Linked DNA regions of Homo sapiens: region 2 is linked to region 1. Evidence: fine-mapped expression QTL. A gene starts in region 1. The other region holds a variant in brackets. All regions are shown on one strand. Distances are from middle to middle.

Region 1 (8,000 bases):
CCCTTCATCCAGCTCACCCTTTGCCACTCCTATTCATCTTAAACATCACGTCTTTCTCCCAGCTCTGACACGTTGGCATTAAACAGTGAACTGTGACCAGTTGCTGGGTGCCTGTCTCTGCCTCCTGGTTGGGATACCTGAGGGTAGAGAACTGTGCATCCTTATCAGCCCCAACTCCAGCTGGTAGCACTCACTTGACACACAGAGGGAGCCCCCTCCGTGAATCTAGGTTGAATGGATGGGTGGTCACTACATTCGTCTGTTGGGATCCAAGCCTCACCCTGGAGAGCCCAGAAGGATGCATCTGCTCACCAGCCAGGAAGGCAGTGGGCTGGGGCTATACCTGCCTCACTTAAGAGATGGGAGCCCTGAGGGGCAGAGACAGCTTCCCCCGGAGTTGGCGCTGAGTCACCTGGGAAGCAGGAATTTCTGCTCCAATCTCTTCCTTACCCTAATGTTCAGGTCAGCAGTGAGAAGCTTTTTCTAGTAACTAAATTAAGGAGGCCTCTCAAAGACCTTTTTGTTGTTGTTTTGTTTTGAGACAGGGTCTCACTCTGTTGCCCAGGCTGGAGCACAGTGGCATGATCACAACTCACTGCAGCCTTGACCTCCCAGGTGCAAGCAATCCTCCTGCTTCAGCTTGGTGAGTAGCTAGGACCACAGGTGCACACCACCACGCCTAATTTTTTGCAGAGATGGCATCTGGCTATGTTGCCCAGGCTGATCTTGAACTCTGGGGTTCAAGTGACCCTCCTGCCTCAGTCTTCCAAAGTGTGGGGATGACAGGCATGAGCCACTGCGCCCGGCTCAAACACCTTTCTTTCCATTCCTGGAAATGCTGAAATCCAGTCTCCAGTGCTTCTAACATGGGGTCGTCTCCAGTTCCCCTCTCAACCACCAGTCCTCTGTCTGGTCCTCTACTCTTTGATTCTCCAGTGCACCTGAGACCACTGGGTCTCAAATAAAGCATCTCCCAGTTTCTCAGCTGACCATTGGCCTCCTTTATGAACTTTGTTTTGTACACATCTGTATCCTCAGCGCCTAGCAAAACTGGCTGTCAGGAAATGCTCACTGAGCAAACAAACGTGGCCCCACTAGGAGCCTCACATCCTCATTGATCACATGACGAGAGTAAAATTTACCTTGGAGGTAAGAGGCCCAAGAGAAGACACAGCAAGTTCTCAGTAACAATCACTATTAGAACTGGGGTAACTGGTCAAAGTGGCTGGGGGAGGGGAGGGCTTAGAGGCCTCCTACAGGCATCCTGGATGTGGCATGTAATTAGTGCTCATAAAAGACGGTTCTATTGAGGAGTGAAAATGGAACCCCTAAATAAACTAGTATGAAATAACGCAAAAAAAAAAAAAGACAATTCCAACTATTGTAGAAGTGATCACCTCAACACACATCGCCTCCTTTCCAAACCCTGGGAGAAAGGAGTTCCAACGAGAGGACATGAGTATGACAGCAAAGGAGGTGTTCAGGTCTGAGCCAACCTGGCAGGAAGTGAGTGCCTCGCCCAGCCACCCGGCCTCCCCACCTCCCTCCCTCCTCACACTTCCCATCGATCTTCATTGCCATTTCCTGGGTTTGCACATTTCCTGGGTTTGCACAAGGCTGCCTCTGGAGACAGCATGGCTTCTTTCTCAGCTGGCCTTTGGTGTCAGTGCTGGTATCACCCGCCTCCTGGCGCTGCACACTGCCCATCATCACGCACCCAGGGCCTCAGGATGCTGCTGAGAGCACCCCGGTCCACAGCCAGGTGGGAGAGCACACTGACAGACCGGCTGAACACCTGTCAGACCTCTGAGAACTCTCCTGCAAAGCTTTGGAGGGACGAGTCCACCTGGCACAGAGATCAAACTCTCCCAGCATCTCCCTTGAGGTTACATCATCCATGCACCTGCATTCCTGGACATCCTGTGAAACCTGATGGTAACCAACTACACACCAGGAGAGTTTGAAAAATACCTGGCCTGATGCAAGAATCAAAAGATGGAAAGGAAAAAACAGGAATGGCAACATAGGAAAGGCAACCTGTGATGGCAAATAAACTTCAAACTCCTTTAGCAGAATGTATCGCAGAAGCAGAGAAATGGATCACAGCCAATTAATTGAACTCTATATCCTATCAATATTAACATGCCACTTCAGAAAAATCGAGATTGCTCAAAAACTGCTAGTTACGTGGTCCTGTGGCCTACCACCCTAAGACCAGAATTCTTACATCAACAGGGATGTATAAAACACTATTTTTAAAAAAGCACAAAACACTATTTTTAAAAAAGCACGAATACTTAATCTCACAAACAAAATGTTTTGACCATTAGTATTCTTTGGGAGAAAAAAATAAAATTTTAAGTCAAATATTTTTTCAGCTAATTTCTTTTTTTAATTAAAAGGTAAGTTTACCTTTGAAGTTTCCTTTCACTGGTCAAAAGGCCATCGCCAAGTCATATTTCTAATTAGCAACCCAGGGGACTCGTTCAGAAATGTTACTTTTGAACGACTGCTTAAGCGTAAATGAAAAAAAAAAAAGTGCAACGACCCTCTGGCGTGCAGAGAAACGCTTCTGCAGAAATTCAGTGCCCCCCTGACCTTAAAGCATGCAACGAGTTCTGTTTGCGAAGCTAAAAAGAAGGGTGTTGGGTCACCCTCAAGCCTGGCTTCACCCCTGGCTTCCAAGAATCCAAGGAACAGGAGGGGCTTTATTTGACAGCTTTGCCACTTCGTTCCCTCATGAACCGCCCTGCCCTGGCACCCTGCTGCTTTATCCCAGAGGGTCCCTGAAGGTTGCAAAGCAGGCATACAGCTCTGAGTGACTTTCTAAAAGTACCTGACTGTAGGAAGTGAGGCTGGGAGGTCCCTCAGCTCCAACTTTGCTTTCTATTATTGCTACAACATTTCAGCAATCTTTTGTTTTTTGCATCCCTCTAATTTTATTTTCCAATTTAAGTTTTAAAAATCCATAAAGCAGCCCAAGTCTGGAGACCCAGGAATTTTAATTCTCTGGAGTCAGAGAAACCTAGGTTAAGTTCCCAGCCAGGTCACTTCCTAGCTCCGTGCCCCTTAGGGAATATACTTAACCACTCTCGGCCTCAGTTTCTCAACCACAAAATGGGTTCACGTGAGGGTTCCATGCTGAGCTCCCCGCGCCAGAGCGCAGATGAGAGCGCGGTTGCTGTGAGGACAGCTTCTTTCCAGAGCCAGGGGAGGAGGGCGAGTTCGCGGATCGCAGCGCGAACGCGGGGTCTCGGGCCGGGGACGGTTACGACGGAGGGGATGGGGGGTCGGGTCGCACGCCCGGCGCGGAGTCGCGGGGACTCACCAAGGCTTCCTCTTCGTCCTTCTCCAGCGCCTGGTACTGGCGGCCCCCGCCCGAGAAGCCGAGTTTCTTCAGGAACTCGGAGACGCGTCCCTCGACCATGGTGAGCGGGCGCAGGCGTTGCCTGCGTCCCTAGGTCCCCGGCGAGGCCCGGGATGGCTGCGCGCGCCCAAGCCTCCTGGGCCGGACCCGGTTACCAGGTAGCTGTCTACCTGCCCGCGGCAGGTGAGGCCCCGCCCCTGGGGCGGGGCTGCGCACAGGGAGGTGCCGGCTCACCCGGCCCCGCCCCGCGAGCTCGCCTGGGACCCCAGGGGCTCTGGGGACAGCGCCGGCTGGCCATGAAAGGCCCAGGGAGAGGCTGCGTCGCCTCAGGGCTTGGGCTGTTTCCCAAACTTACAGATCCTAAGAATCACCTGGAGTGGGGGAGGTGGAGGAGCAAATGCTGGTTTAAAATCCGGATTCCCAGACCCCTCCCTGCCCAGTCACGGTTTGGAGCCGCCGGGAGCTGGGTTTTTAACGAGCCCCAGGTGATCCTCTTGAGGAACCCAGGGTGGGCGGCTCTAAGGCGCCGGGAGCGAGGTGGCTGGAGCTCAGTCAGACTCACACCTGCGGCTGTGCACTCTGGACGGGTCACGTGGCCTTTCTGAGCCTCGGCAACCTAGCCTGTCATTGAGCGGGGAGCAGCAGAAGGCTAAGACCCCCACCTCCAGGGCCCTGGGAGTGAGTCCAGGAACAGGAGCGACTGAGAGCCCTGCTGCCTTTGGCGCCTGCATGGTCTCGGATGGTCAGGGCCCCTGTCCTCGTCTGCAGGATGAGCGCCGCTCTTGCTCGTCGTGGGACCTGAGCAGGTTTCTTATATTTTTAGCGCCTTGGTTTACTGCTCTGCAGAATGGCCACCACGATAGCGCCTCCTTCACAGTGACATGGAGAGGCCCCAGCGGACAGTGCTGTACAGGAAGGTCTCGAGCAGGGCTTGGAGTAGAGAATGTGCTGGTGTCCCCATGACACCATCCTCCTCCTCTTCATCATCAGAAGGTGCTGGGCTCAAATGGCTCCCAAAGTATGTGAGTCCATACGCAGTGTAGACAGTTGCCAGCAGCCAAGTGGGTGCTTTGAAGTTCCAGGGCTTTCTTTGGCTTCAGGTAGGACTAGATCCGTAACTAGACCCACCACTTAGCAGAGGGGGAGCTCTGGGGAAGTCCGTGCCACCCGCCTTTCCGCTGGCTTCCTCATCTCTACAGGGAAGTTACTCACGGGCTACAGGAGGTGCCCTCTGCATTTGTCCACGAAATTCAGCCACCCCTTTTGAGCAAATATTTGCCACCTACCTCAATTGCTCCCGAGGGTTGACTCCAGGCCACGAAAACCTGCAGGGCAGTTCCAGTGCCCCTTCTTGTATCTCCTGCATCTTCCTCTTTCAAGGAAACAAAGGCTACGGTATCAGCCTGGCCCCACTCCCCAGTTTCAACAAAGGTGCAGGAATAATGGTAACAGCAAACCTCTGATGTGAGTGAGTCCAGATTTGAATCCCAGGAATGTTCCTTTCCGACCTTGGGCAATTTTCTTCACCTCTCTCCACCTCAGTTTACTCATCCATAAAATGGGGATGTCACTACCTACCCGTAGGAGTCAGGGTCCCAGTAGGAAATAGTAATTTGAGGAGAGTTTGAGAAACAGACTTTTTACAAAGCTGTGGGGAAGACGTAGAGAAACCAGAAGTGCTTGTGTCATTAACGAAGACTAGCAAAGAGTGAGAAGTGGCTTTGGTCCCACCCAAGGCCTGAAGGGCCAGACGAGAGAGGAGTTACCTGGAGGGGGAGCTCTGGGGCACTGATAACTTCTGCAGAGGGCAACTGCTTAGATCAAAAGCCAGAAAGCAACAGAGCGCCAAGGATGCAGCCTCCTGGGCAGAGAATCCAAAGAAGGGTGGAGAGTGGTGTAGAGGAGGCTGGGCAAGGTGGCTCACACCTCTAATCCCAGCACTTTGAGAGGCCAAGGTGGGCGGATCACCTGAGGTCAGGAGTTCGAGTCCAGCCTGGCCAACATGGGGAAACCCTGTCACTAGTAAAAATAGAAAAATTAGCCAGGTGTGCTGGCATGCGCCTGTAATCCCAGCTACTTCGGAGGCTGAGGCAGGAGAATCGCTTGAACCCGGAAGGTGGAGGTTGCAGGGAGCCAAGATTGTGCCACTGCACTCCAGCCTGGGCAGTAGAGCAAGACTTCATGTCAAACAAACAAAAAAAAAAGAGTGTTGTAGAGGAACAAGGAGGAGACATCCCGCAGCCAACCTCAGCATCCTGTGGTTCAGGCTGAGTGAATGCTTGCACAGGTATGATGTAGTAGTACGATGTCGTGGTACCCGACATTGCAGGCTCTCAGGCGCTTCTATATTATTAATATAAAAGAACATATGGGAACTTGGCTCAGTTATTTCTCAGGTCCTTCCCAAGTGGCATTCTGTGATTTTAAAATGATGTTGGATCCAGGGAAGAAGAACGCCTTGTTGGCATCTTCATGTTTTTCCAAGCTGTTAACCAGATGTCATCTCTCCAGGCAGATCAGCATCCCCGGAGCAGAGGATTTGAAAGCCCAGCCTTTCGGATCCTATCACCATGGCTTCCGCTCCAGCCCAGAGATGTCAAGGCTGGAATTCCTGGGCTAGGTTCGAAAATGCCCAGGGCATTCCAGAAGGAAACTCTAGGTGGTGGATATATGCATGTACATTTTAGAGACAAGGTCTCACTCTGTAGTCCAGGCTGGAGGGCACTGGCGCGATCATAGTTCACTGTAGGCTTGAACTCCTGGGTTCAAGCAATACTCCCTCCTGAGTAGCTGGGACTACAGGTGCACAGAACCACACCCAGCTAATTTTCTAATTTTTATTTTTATGTAGAGATGGGGTCTTTGCTCTGTTGCCCAGGCCTATAAATTAGATTTGTGGTGTGTAAAATTAGGTAAATTAGGCTCCACCAGTGTTGGTTATGGTAAATGATGTGCCTGAAACATGGCAAATACTCCAAAAAATTTTTGAATATGTCTCCCATAAACAGCAGATCATTCAAATTTATATTTAACAGAACTTTCATATGAACGATTTGCTTTATAATAGGGAAATGTAGGCCGGGCGCAGTGGCTCATGCCTGTAATCCCAGCACTTTGGGAGGCTGAGGCAGGCGGATCATGAGGTCAGGAGATTGACACCATCCTGGCAAACACGGTGAAACCTCGTCTCTATTAAAAATACAAAAAATTAGCCAGGCGTGGTGGCGGGCGCCTGTAGTCCCAGCTACTCGGGAGGCTGAGGCAGGAGAATGGCGTGAACCCGGGAGGCGGAGCTTGCAGTGAGCCGAGATCGCGCCACTGCACTCCAGCCCGGGGAACACAGCGAGACTCCGTCTCAAAAAAAAAAAAAAAAAAAAATAGGGAAATGTATTGTGTTTACATTGTTATAGTTGTCATTGTTAGATTGACTTCTGTCATCCTCTTTCATGTTTCATTTCTGTGCCTTTTGAGGCAAGCACTCAATTTGCTGTCAATTTTTACTTTGGTTTTGGAATAAACATCTCATTGAAAGTTCTATTGGGAGCTACCTGAAAACACTTCAGAAATACAGATGAGTATTTACAGTCTCTTTTGGTTTCCTTTTCCAGATTTAAAGAAATTTTCCAACTTTAATTTTTGTTTTTCTAACCTCTGCATCCTTTTATATTCTAAGTAAGTTAATTATCCAAACTCTCTCTTTTTTTTTTTTTTTTTTTTTTGAGACAGAGTCTTGCTCTATTGCCCAGGCTGGAGTACAGTGGCACCATCTCGGCTTGCTGCAACCTCCACCTTCTGGGTTCAAGCGATTCTCGTGCCTCAGCCTCCAGATTAGCTGGGACTACAGGCATGCGCCACCATGCCTAGCTAATTTTTTTTTTTTTTTTTTTTTTTTTTAGTAGAGACAGGGTTTTGCCATGTTGACCAGGCTGGTCTTGAACTTCTGACCTCAAGTGATCTATCGGCCTGCCTCAGCCTCCCAAAGTGCTGGGATTACAGGTTTGAGCCACCGTGCCCGGCCCAAGCTCTTACCTTCTGAGTTGGTTGTTGTTGTTGTTGTTGTGTGTTGTTGTTTCCCCGTCAGTTACACCTGCTATTTATGTTTGCCTTAAACGACCTTTCTGAGCTCTGTCTGTCACTTTGTTTGGATTCCGTGGTCATCCCCACAGACTTCAAGATTCTGTTTTTTCAAGTTTTTTGTTTATTTTTTCTGCCTTCAGCCTGTAAAATGCTAGAGCCCACTTGCAAAGAATCTAACAAGGCAGTTGGCTGGAGAACTTTCTGGGGTTTGCGGCTCAACGCCTCAGAGTGATTCTGCCCTATTGGCCAACGATGAACGCCAAGGGTGGGACCCAACCAGAGGCATCCAGCCTTTCTCAAAATGTCTGCTCTGGGCACCTTGAACAATGAGGTCATGCTCTGCAACTCCCATTCACTCTCTATGTCAGAGTCGTGTCTTTTCACTGCCCACAAATTATCCCCAGCAATGCGCCCTGCTGGGAGCCAGGATGCAACCTCAAGACACCTGTATTTTGTTTGGTAACAAACTTCACTCAAAAGTTCTCTAAGCGTGGCACTGAAGACATCCTTTTTGGAAAGGGTACACTGTACAAAAGTATATTTTGTACAATTTGTT
Region 2 (8,000 bases), 95 kb before region 1:
TCCTTTCCAGGCTCTTTGCTAATGCCTTTTAACTTTTCTTGCCATATTACACTGGCTAGGACTTCTAATACTGTGCTGAATAGGAGTGGTGAGGCTGGTCACCCTTGGACCTTATCCTGTGGGGAAAGAATTCAGTTTTTCATCATTAAGTATGATGTTAGCTATAGGTTTTTTGTAGATGTTCTTTATCAGGTTGAAGAAGTTTCCTTCAATTCCTAGTTTGAGAGTTTTTATTACAAATGGAGATTGAATTTTATCAAATGCCTTTTCTGCATTAATTGATATAACCATGTGTTTTTCCTTCTTCAGACTATTAATATAGTGAGTTATATTGGTTTTTGAATGTTGAACTTTTCAGTTATATTGGTTTTGAATGTTGAACTTTGGAATGCTTGAATTCCATTCCTCAATTAACCCCACTTCGTCCTGGTGTCTTATATTCTTCGTACCTGGCTAGATCTGATTTCCTCATATTTTGTTGAGGATTTTCGTGCATATATTCATAAGGGATGTTGGTCTCTAGTATTTTTCTCTAGTTTTGGTATCAGAGTGATTGTTGACCTTATAAAATGAGAAGTGCTCGGTCCCCTTTTATTTTTGGAATTCAGTGTATCGAATTGCCATTTCTTTACAAGTTTAGTAAAATTCACCAGTGAAATCATCTGGCTTCAGAAACTGCCTTTTTTGGAAGGGTTTCAACTTCAGCTTATCTATTTAATCTTCAGTGAGTTTTGGTAGTTTTTGGTTTTCAAGCAATTGGTTTATTTCATCCAATTGATTGAATTTAGGTACATAAAGATGTACATAGTATTATTTATTATTATTGTTGGAATATCTTGAAGGGTTTGTGGTGATATACTTTTTCATTCCTGACATTGGTCATTTCTCTTCCCTTTTTTCTTTGATAAGCTTATTGCAAGACTGATAGTTTTATTGATCTCTTCGAAAAACTAGGTTTTGATTGATTTTCCTCTATTTTTGCTTTTTCGTTTGATTTCTGCTCTTTATTTTGGTGACTGTTTCTATGCTACTCGTGAATGGGGTGTTCTACAAGTGTAAATCAAGCTAAGTTGCTTAATGGTGGTGTTCAAGTCTACTGTGTCCTTAATGAAAAGAAGGTCTTAGTTTTAATGTAGTCTAATTTATATTTTATTGTTAGCATTTTGTGTCTTACTACAGTTTTATCCCTAAAGTTTACATAAGCAAGAGTTCAGAGTAATCGACCCTGGTATTTTGATTACTTAATTTTAAATGGGAAGTAAATGTCTCGGGCCAGCAGTGTGCCCAAGGATCCTGAAAAGTAGAGCAAGAATTGTCCCTGACTCAGGGGGAGGCACTCCTTAGCAGACTGTGGAAGTGGCACACTTCAGCCTTGACCTCTTAGTGGTTCCAGGGGTTGGCAGCTTCTAGGAAGACAGCCCCACAGCTCAAAAGGTTTCTTCTCCAGCCAGCCCTGTGTCTGTGTCTCACTAGGAATGGCCCATCGCTGCATCTCCTCCTGTGGCCCTGGTGTCACAGGTTGTAGCCAGAGAGGGGCTTCTTCCCAGGCTGTGAATCCTACTATGGAGGACTTTGGACTCTGCCTGGAACCCTGGCAGGGGTCCACTCTGACCTTCCTTATCTTCGTCTGACCCAGCTGTTACCACCCCTGGTAGCCCTTTTCATAGCTACCGTGGCTGGGTGCAACGGGTACTTTTATCTGACAACTTGGCCAGGCCAAGTTGATTTTCGTCAAACAAACACTGGTCTAGATGGCGCTGTGTAACTAACATGTAAGCCCGTAGACTTGAAGTAAAACAAACAGTTTATCCTTCATAACGTGAGTGGGCCTCATCCGATCAGTTGAGGACTATAAGAGGAAAAGGCTGAACTCCCTTGAGGAGGAGGAAATTCTGCCTCCAGCCTGCATCCCCAGCTCTTCCCTGGGTCTCCAGGATGCTGGCCTGCCCTCAAGATGTTAGACTTGCCAGCCCCCAACATCCTATGAGCCAGTTCCTTAAAACAAATCTCTGCATCTCCCTCCATCCTGTTGGTTCTGTTTCTCTAGTGAGGCCTGACTAGTAAATGGGGGGTTCTAGCTCTGGCCTTATTTCCTGAGAGATGGGGACGGAGTTCCCCTTCTGGTTCCCTTTGGTGGTTCTGGCGTGGCTTCAGGCAGAAGAACAGCATGGAGACCTCTCTCCTCTGCCATCTGTCACGTGGAAGAGCAGATCGGTTTTTGGAAGTCTTTGGGGCAGTGGGAAATCAAGCTTGTCTGCAGGCAGCAGGAGATACTACAGTTCCTGGTTCCGGAGAGAAGGGCCACTTTCTGAGAGAGACTCTTGCTTTGTTGCCCATGCTGCAGTGCAGTGGTACAATCTCCACCTCCTGGACTCAAGCCATTCTCCTGCCTCAGCCTCCCGAGTAGCTGGGATTAACAGGTGTGCATCATCACGCCTGGCAACTGTTTTTTTTTTTTTTTTTAAACTTTTAGTAGAGACAGACAGGGTTTTGCTGTGTTGGCCAGGCTGGCCTCAAGTGATCTGCCTGCCTTGGCCTTGCAAAGTGCTGGGATTACAGGCGTGAGCCACCATGCCCAGCCCTACTCTTTATGTCCAAAAGCCGAGGCCTTCCTGTAGGCCATTCATGATGGATTGCTGCTCACCCCACGTGGCCATTAACACATGGCTGTGGGTTTCCAACCTGGCCCCTTGTATGAAAAACCCTAGGTAAACACATCAAAATAATTATCCCCCGGCATAGCACTTTATTTAAAAGTCCCTCATTTTATGATGAGGAAATGGGGCCTCCAGGAGGGCAATGGGCAGAGTGTGACCATCCTACCCACTGCCTCTCAGGAGCCCCTTGTATCTGCCACGAGTGGCCTGCCTCACTGCAAGCTGTGGCACAGATACGTAGTTAGACATGGTTAATAAAAATCATTGTGATTTAATAAACAGTGTGGTGTTTCTGTACAGGCCCCTCCCTGTCTGTCCCACAGCCAGCGGGAACGCTGGATGGATGTGGGCCTGGGTCCCTGGAGCCCACGAGGTTCCTGCAGCTTTCCTAAGAGGAAAAACTGATCCGGTGATGGAAGGCTGCGGCCTCCTAAAAGTCTCCCCTGACGAGGAGACACGGCAGGGGCCACAGTCACAACCAGATCGAGATGATTAGGGAAGGTGCCGCGGAGTGCGGTCCACTACACATCTTCAGGGTGCATCTGGACTCTCTTGGGGCTGCAACAGTATTTTTCACATAGTTTGAGGAGCTCTGACAAAATGAAGACGGATGAGGCCAATCCAGTTAAAAACAGCAAATCTGCCAAGGGAGAAAACAGAAAAGATTCAGGACGGGCTGCAGCTCTGTTGCGCCGGCAGGAAGCGCCTTCCCTGCCAGTCCTCCTGATAAAGTGAGAGGTGCGGAGGACCAGCCCTTTTCATTCCCCTGAAGGCAGGGAGATCTTCCTAACCCAGAATCCAAAATGCTGCAGTTCCAGAAGGGCCTGCCTGTGGTTCCAGGCAAACACCAGGCAGCTCCAGAGCACAGGGTGGGTCTGGCAGGCAGCTGGGAGCATGTTATGGACTCGGGCTGGAAGGGGAATGAGTTTCCTTTCCCTACAGCAG[C/T]TGTCCCAGTGCCCTGCTGCTTGCAAATGTCCTGAGTGACCAGTCTGGGCTCCCTGTCCAGTGCACCCCGACATGTTCCCTGGGATGAATTCCCAGCGACATGTTCCCTGGGATGAATTCCCAGCGTCTCCCTCTGCTCCTGTCACATGCTGTTTTGAGGAACCATCCCTGGCTCCCTGTTGATGATTCCTGATGTACGGGCTGCCCAAGCACAACCCCTTCAGGCGTGGGAAGCCGACTTCCTTCCCGGCGGGTGGAAACAGCCAGTGAGCAGAGTGTTTTGGGGGGTCCTCTTGTCTGTTCCTACAGGGCATTCACTGGTGACCCACACTGACACTGCTTTTTGGAGGACAAGGCAGAGTTGACCATCCCAGTCTTGCCTGGAGGTCATAGGACCGTTGTCACTGCAGCCTCAGGTCTGATGCATAATCCCATGACCCTCCAGATCTGAGCCATGACCCACTCTGGGCCCTGCCGGCGGGGAGGCGGTGGGCCCATGGGGGCTGCCTCACTGGCCTCCCTCGTCCTCTATTCCGGGTTGGGGTTGGCTCTCAGCACACTGGGGAAAAGGGTGGGGTCGATGACTTGTCCCTGGCTCCCTCCCCTTGCCCCATGCCTGCCATAACCGCAGCTTCAGAGAAAGGTGCCACACTCGCTTGGCTGACAATGTCGGGGAGTCCCCTGGGCTCCACACCAGGGCGTGTGCCCTTGGAAAACCACGGTGACTGAATCATGTCCCTTTCAGCCAAAACTGGAAGACAGCCCAGCTCCCTGCCTTCAGGTGACCAGATCTCTAAGTCACATTACTGGCCCCAGGGTCAAGTCCAGGCTCCCCAGCTGGGGTACCTCCCAGGCTGAGTACAGGCCTTGCTCCCTCCTTCCTCCCTGCACGTGCTCTGAGCCTCCAGCCCGACGCCTGGGATGCCGGTGCCCCTTGGGCCCCAGACCCTACTACTCTTGAGTGACAGGCCTCTTCCTAGGGGTTTCTGTGCATCCGTCACATCACCCACGTTAGAGTCCCTTCCTGTGAGGACAGAAGGGCCCTGAAGACAGAGCCGGCCCCTGGTGAGCTCTGCTTTCCCGCACTGACCCCTCCTGGGCTGCAGCTCCCCACCTGGCAGCTGCCGCCCCCCATGGCCCTGGTCGAGGTCACCTGTCGTTCCCGTCCCCACCACTCACCAAGCGCTCCCAGGTTCTCCGTCTGGAAGACCCTCTGCAGCGGGGGGATGTAAATGACCGCCAGCTGCCCCAGGATGGACCCCAGGACGGAGTAGAGGAACATGTGGTTCCTGAGAAAGCCGATCTCAAATATCAGCTTGGTCTGCAGGGAGAAGGTCACACGGGGGATTGTGTGCTGTCCACACCCCAGGTACAGGCAGGGGAGCTCTGACTGCCCACGCTGAGCCAGAGCCGCTCAATGCTGCGGGCAGGGTCGGGGCGCTGCTGTCGAGAACACACAGCAGCTCTGCAGCGAGGAGGGTCAGCCCGGGTCTCACCTGAGAGCGGCAGGTCAAGGCGTTGAAGAGATCGAAAAACACAAAACAAGTGAACGTCATCGTCGTGGTGCGGGGAGTGCTTGCTCTGTCTTCAGGCATCTGGAAGGTGAGCACAAAGGTGAGAGGTTAGGCGGGAAGAGACAACCTCCATCCTGAACCAAAGGGCACAGGCCTGCCTCACTGCTCCTGGGGCATGGCTGGGAGCCACTTACAAGCTCATGAATCGGTCACACAGCTTCCTCCAGGTGTGAGGTCAGTGGCTGCTACCCCAGGGTCTCCCCAGCACATGCTGATTTGCTGCCACCATGAGGATGGGGGCAGGGCACCTATGGGTGGAGGAAACACCACTTCCTCCAGGAAGTAACTGTCTCCCTGGGAGGTGATGCCACTCCAGTTAAACCCAGAGTGAAGGTCATTTCCTACAAGGAAGGCTGAAGGATGGCCGTCAGTAGTAGAGGGAGAGCTGGAGGGAAAATGGAGGCAGGGTACCCGGCCAGGGTCCCCTCCCGCTTCCTGCACATGGGCAATCTGTGGTGTGGTCACATGGGTCACCTGCCTCATTTCCCACCTAGATCGTGGCCCGTCCTGGCATAGAGCTCCCTGAACCTGCAGGCCATGAAAAGGTGACCCAGGCCTAGATCCAAAGCAAACAATCACCTCTAGAGTGTAACACAGGAGGATATTTAGCAGATTTCAAATTGTTTCCTGGTGACAAGGGAACAGGGGGCAGCCTGTCCTCATGTACATTTCAACTCCCGTCTCGGCAAAGTCATCTCCACCCCGCTGGCCTCTGTAGTTCCCAGGCACACACCTGGCGACCTCCCTTCTTTCAAGGGTCACCCAGTCCCTTTGCCTCATGCACCCCACGCCTCTGATGGCATCACATTGTCCGGTGTGTGTACATGTTTGCCTCTCCCAGATGTGAGCTGTGGCAGGAGGGCAGGGACTGCAGTCCCCAGCGTCTGCACCGCACCAGGGCTTGGAGAACAGGCCGGGGTGACCCTCGCTCACCTCCTTCCAGAAGATAAAGAGGGTCCCGCTGATGATGATGGCCGCGGACATGAGGATCTTCAGGATGAGGGCTCTGCTGAGGATGGTGTCCCGCACACTCCGTGGTGGCTGCCTGAAGGCGTCTTTGTCAACGGGCTCTACCCCCAAGCTGCTCCGAACAAGACACAGACACTTTGAAATGAACCAGGAATGAAATAAAGGACCCTTGAAACAGCTGTGCCTGAGCCTCCCAGGCCAAGTTGGCACAGGGGGCAGGGCCAGGCATTTGCTGAACGCCCCCAGGCATCGCACCTGCCCTCCTCGGCACCTTCCAGAAGCCCCAGAGCCTGGGTCCATGGGCAGCTGTGCCCCTCCATCTGTCCCGCAGACAGTGAAGGAAGACCACCCCGTAAGGCCAACCACACACAGTTCCATACACCCAGATGATCTCCATCACCCCGAGGGGACCCCCCCCAACGTTGCGCCTGGAGAAACAGGCTCCAGGCTCCGCCCTCCGCAGAGCCCCTCATCAGCTGAGAGAGACCAGCCTCCAGCCAACTCCACACAGCAGGGTTGAGGCTAGACCCGCAGCAGGCGGTATGGTGGGAGTGGCCGGGTGAGGCCCTGCCGCTCAGACACAGCTGAGGCCAGCTTCCTGGTCCCACTTCTGCTCCCAGGGAGGGCTGGCAGGAGAGGTAACCCTCACACTTGGCTTTGGGGACACAAATGAGGACTCTCTTTCCCTTGGCAGCTATCACTGGTGATAACAGCAGCACTGAGCTCCAGCGGAAGCACTGGCTCTGTGCTCATACGGTTACGCACACGTGGCCAGATGGGTCCCCTGACTCCAAAGCGCATTCCTTCCCCCACACCACTTGGCCAGCTTGTTGAAGGGGATATTAAGTGGCGGAGCGGGTGGACTCCTGAGCACCTACTGAGTGGCAAGCCCTTTATCTCTAGACATCAGGGATGAAACACAAACTCCGCCTCCATGAAACTGATGTTCTAAAGGGGAGACAGATCACAATCAGATCCATAAGGAAAAGTGTGTCTGTGTGTATCTTCCTCTCTAGGGAAAAATACAGCAGGGTGAGGGGATTGAGTGGGAGTGCAATCAGGGAAGACTTCCTGAAGGCAGTGACTGGTGACTGGAATGAAGCATGAGAATGAGCCATGCAGGTTGCCCAGAGAGAGCATCCAGGCAGAGGGAGCAGAAAGTTCCATCCTCACCCAGCTCTGCCGGCCCAGGTACTTTCTCCTCTGCCTTCTACTCCCAGTCTCACTGCAGTGCAACACACTTCAGTTTTCTGGGAACTCCTGATGGAAAGTGGCTGTATTTGTTCATCCCTATAGCCTTGGGGCACAGCCAGCAGCCCCTGGAGGAAGCCCCGCAGGTGGGTAAAGAGACACAGGGCTCCCAGCCGGCCCTGCCTCACCTCTGCGCCGGTGGCCCATCCATGATGATGTTGATCCATAGGATCTGCATGGCGTTGAGGGGGCTGGGCAGGTTGAACACGGTGGACAGAGTGATGAGACTCAGGGCGGAGATGCTCCTGCGGGGCACACGCAGCCAGTCAGCGGCCGCCCGCCAGGCGTGGTGCTTAATGACACTCGGAATGCTGGCCTCTACTTACGTGCTCAGCTGGAATCGGACAAAGTTTTTGATGTTGTAAAAAATACCCTTGCCTTCCTCCACTGCATTCCTGCAAGAGAAGAGAGCCATTTACTCACGGAGCGGGCCTGCGTGAGGGCTGGACCAGTGCATCGGTTGCTGCAAGGGGCAGTGGTGACTCGCCCAGATTGATGTTATACTTGGGCCCCTGCTGGTTCCCCTTGCTGGCATTCTTGGGGACACATTTGTAGGAGACGGTGGTGTTCTAACAGGTGCCCCTCGGCCACTGGGAACTGATCC

The links.
Region 2: its variant is fine-mapped to the expression of ATP2C2 in whole blood (TOPMed, PIP 0.94).

The regions. Positions count from the first base shown.
Region 1 is chr16:84,364,043-84,372,042 of GRCh38, reverse strand. ATP2C2 (ATPase secretory pathway Ca2+ transporting 2) reads right to left here and starts at 3,505. Exons shown (of 27, transcript NM_014861.4): 1 at 3,329-3,505. The coding sequence starts at 3,427.
Region 2 is chr16:84,458,911-84,466,910 of GRCh38, reverse strand. It overlaps ATP2C2 (ATPase secretory pathway Ca2+ transporting 2), which reads right to left. Exons shown (of 27, transcript NM_014861.4): 22 at 7,723-7,791; 23 at 7,525-7,641; 24 at 6,110-6,257; 25 at 5,099-5,197; 26 at 4,782-4,923; 27 at 2,724-3,297. The coding sequence ends at 3,179. It overlaps ATP2C2-AS1 (ATP2C2 antisense RNA 1), which reads left to right. Exons shown (of 3, transcript NR_146503.1): 2 at 3,912-5,216; 3 at 6,018-7,652. Among named protein-coding and RNA genes, the nearest start is that of ATP2C2-AS1, 4.4 kb to the left of the region's middle. RefSeq lists enhancers at 4,756-5,955, 7,311-7,810. The variant C/T (reference allele first, on the strand shown) is at 3,603.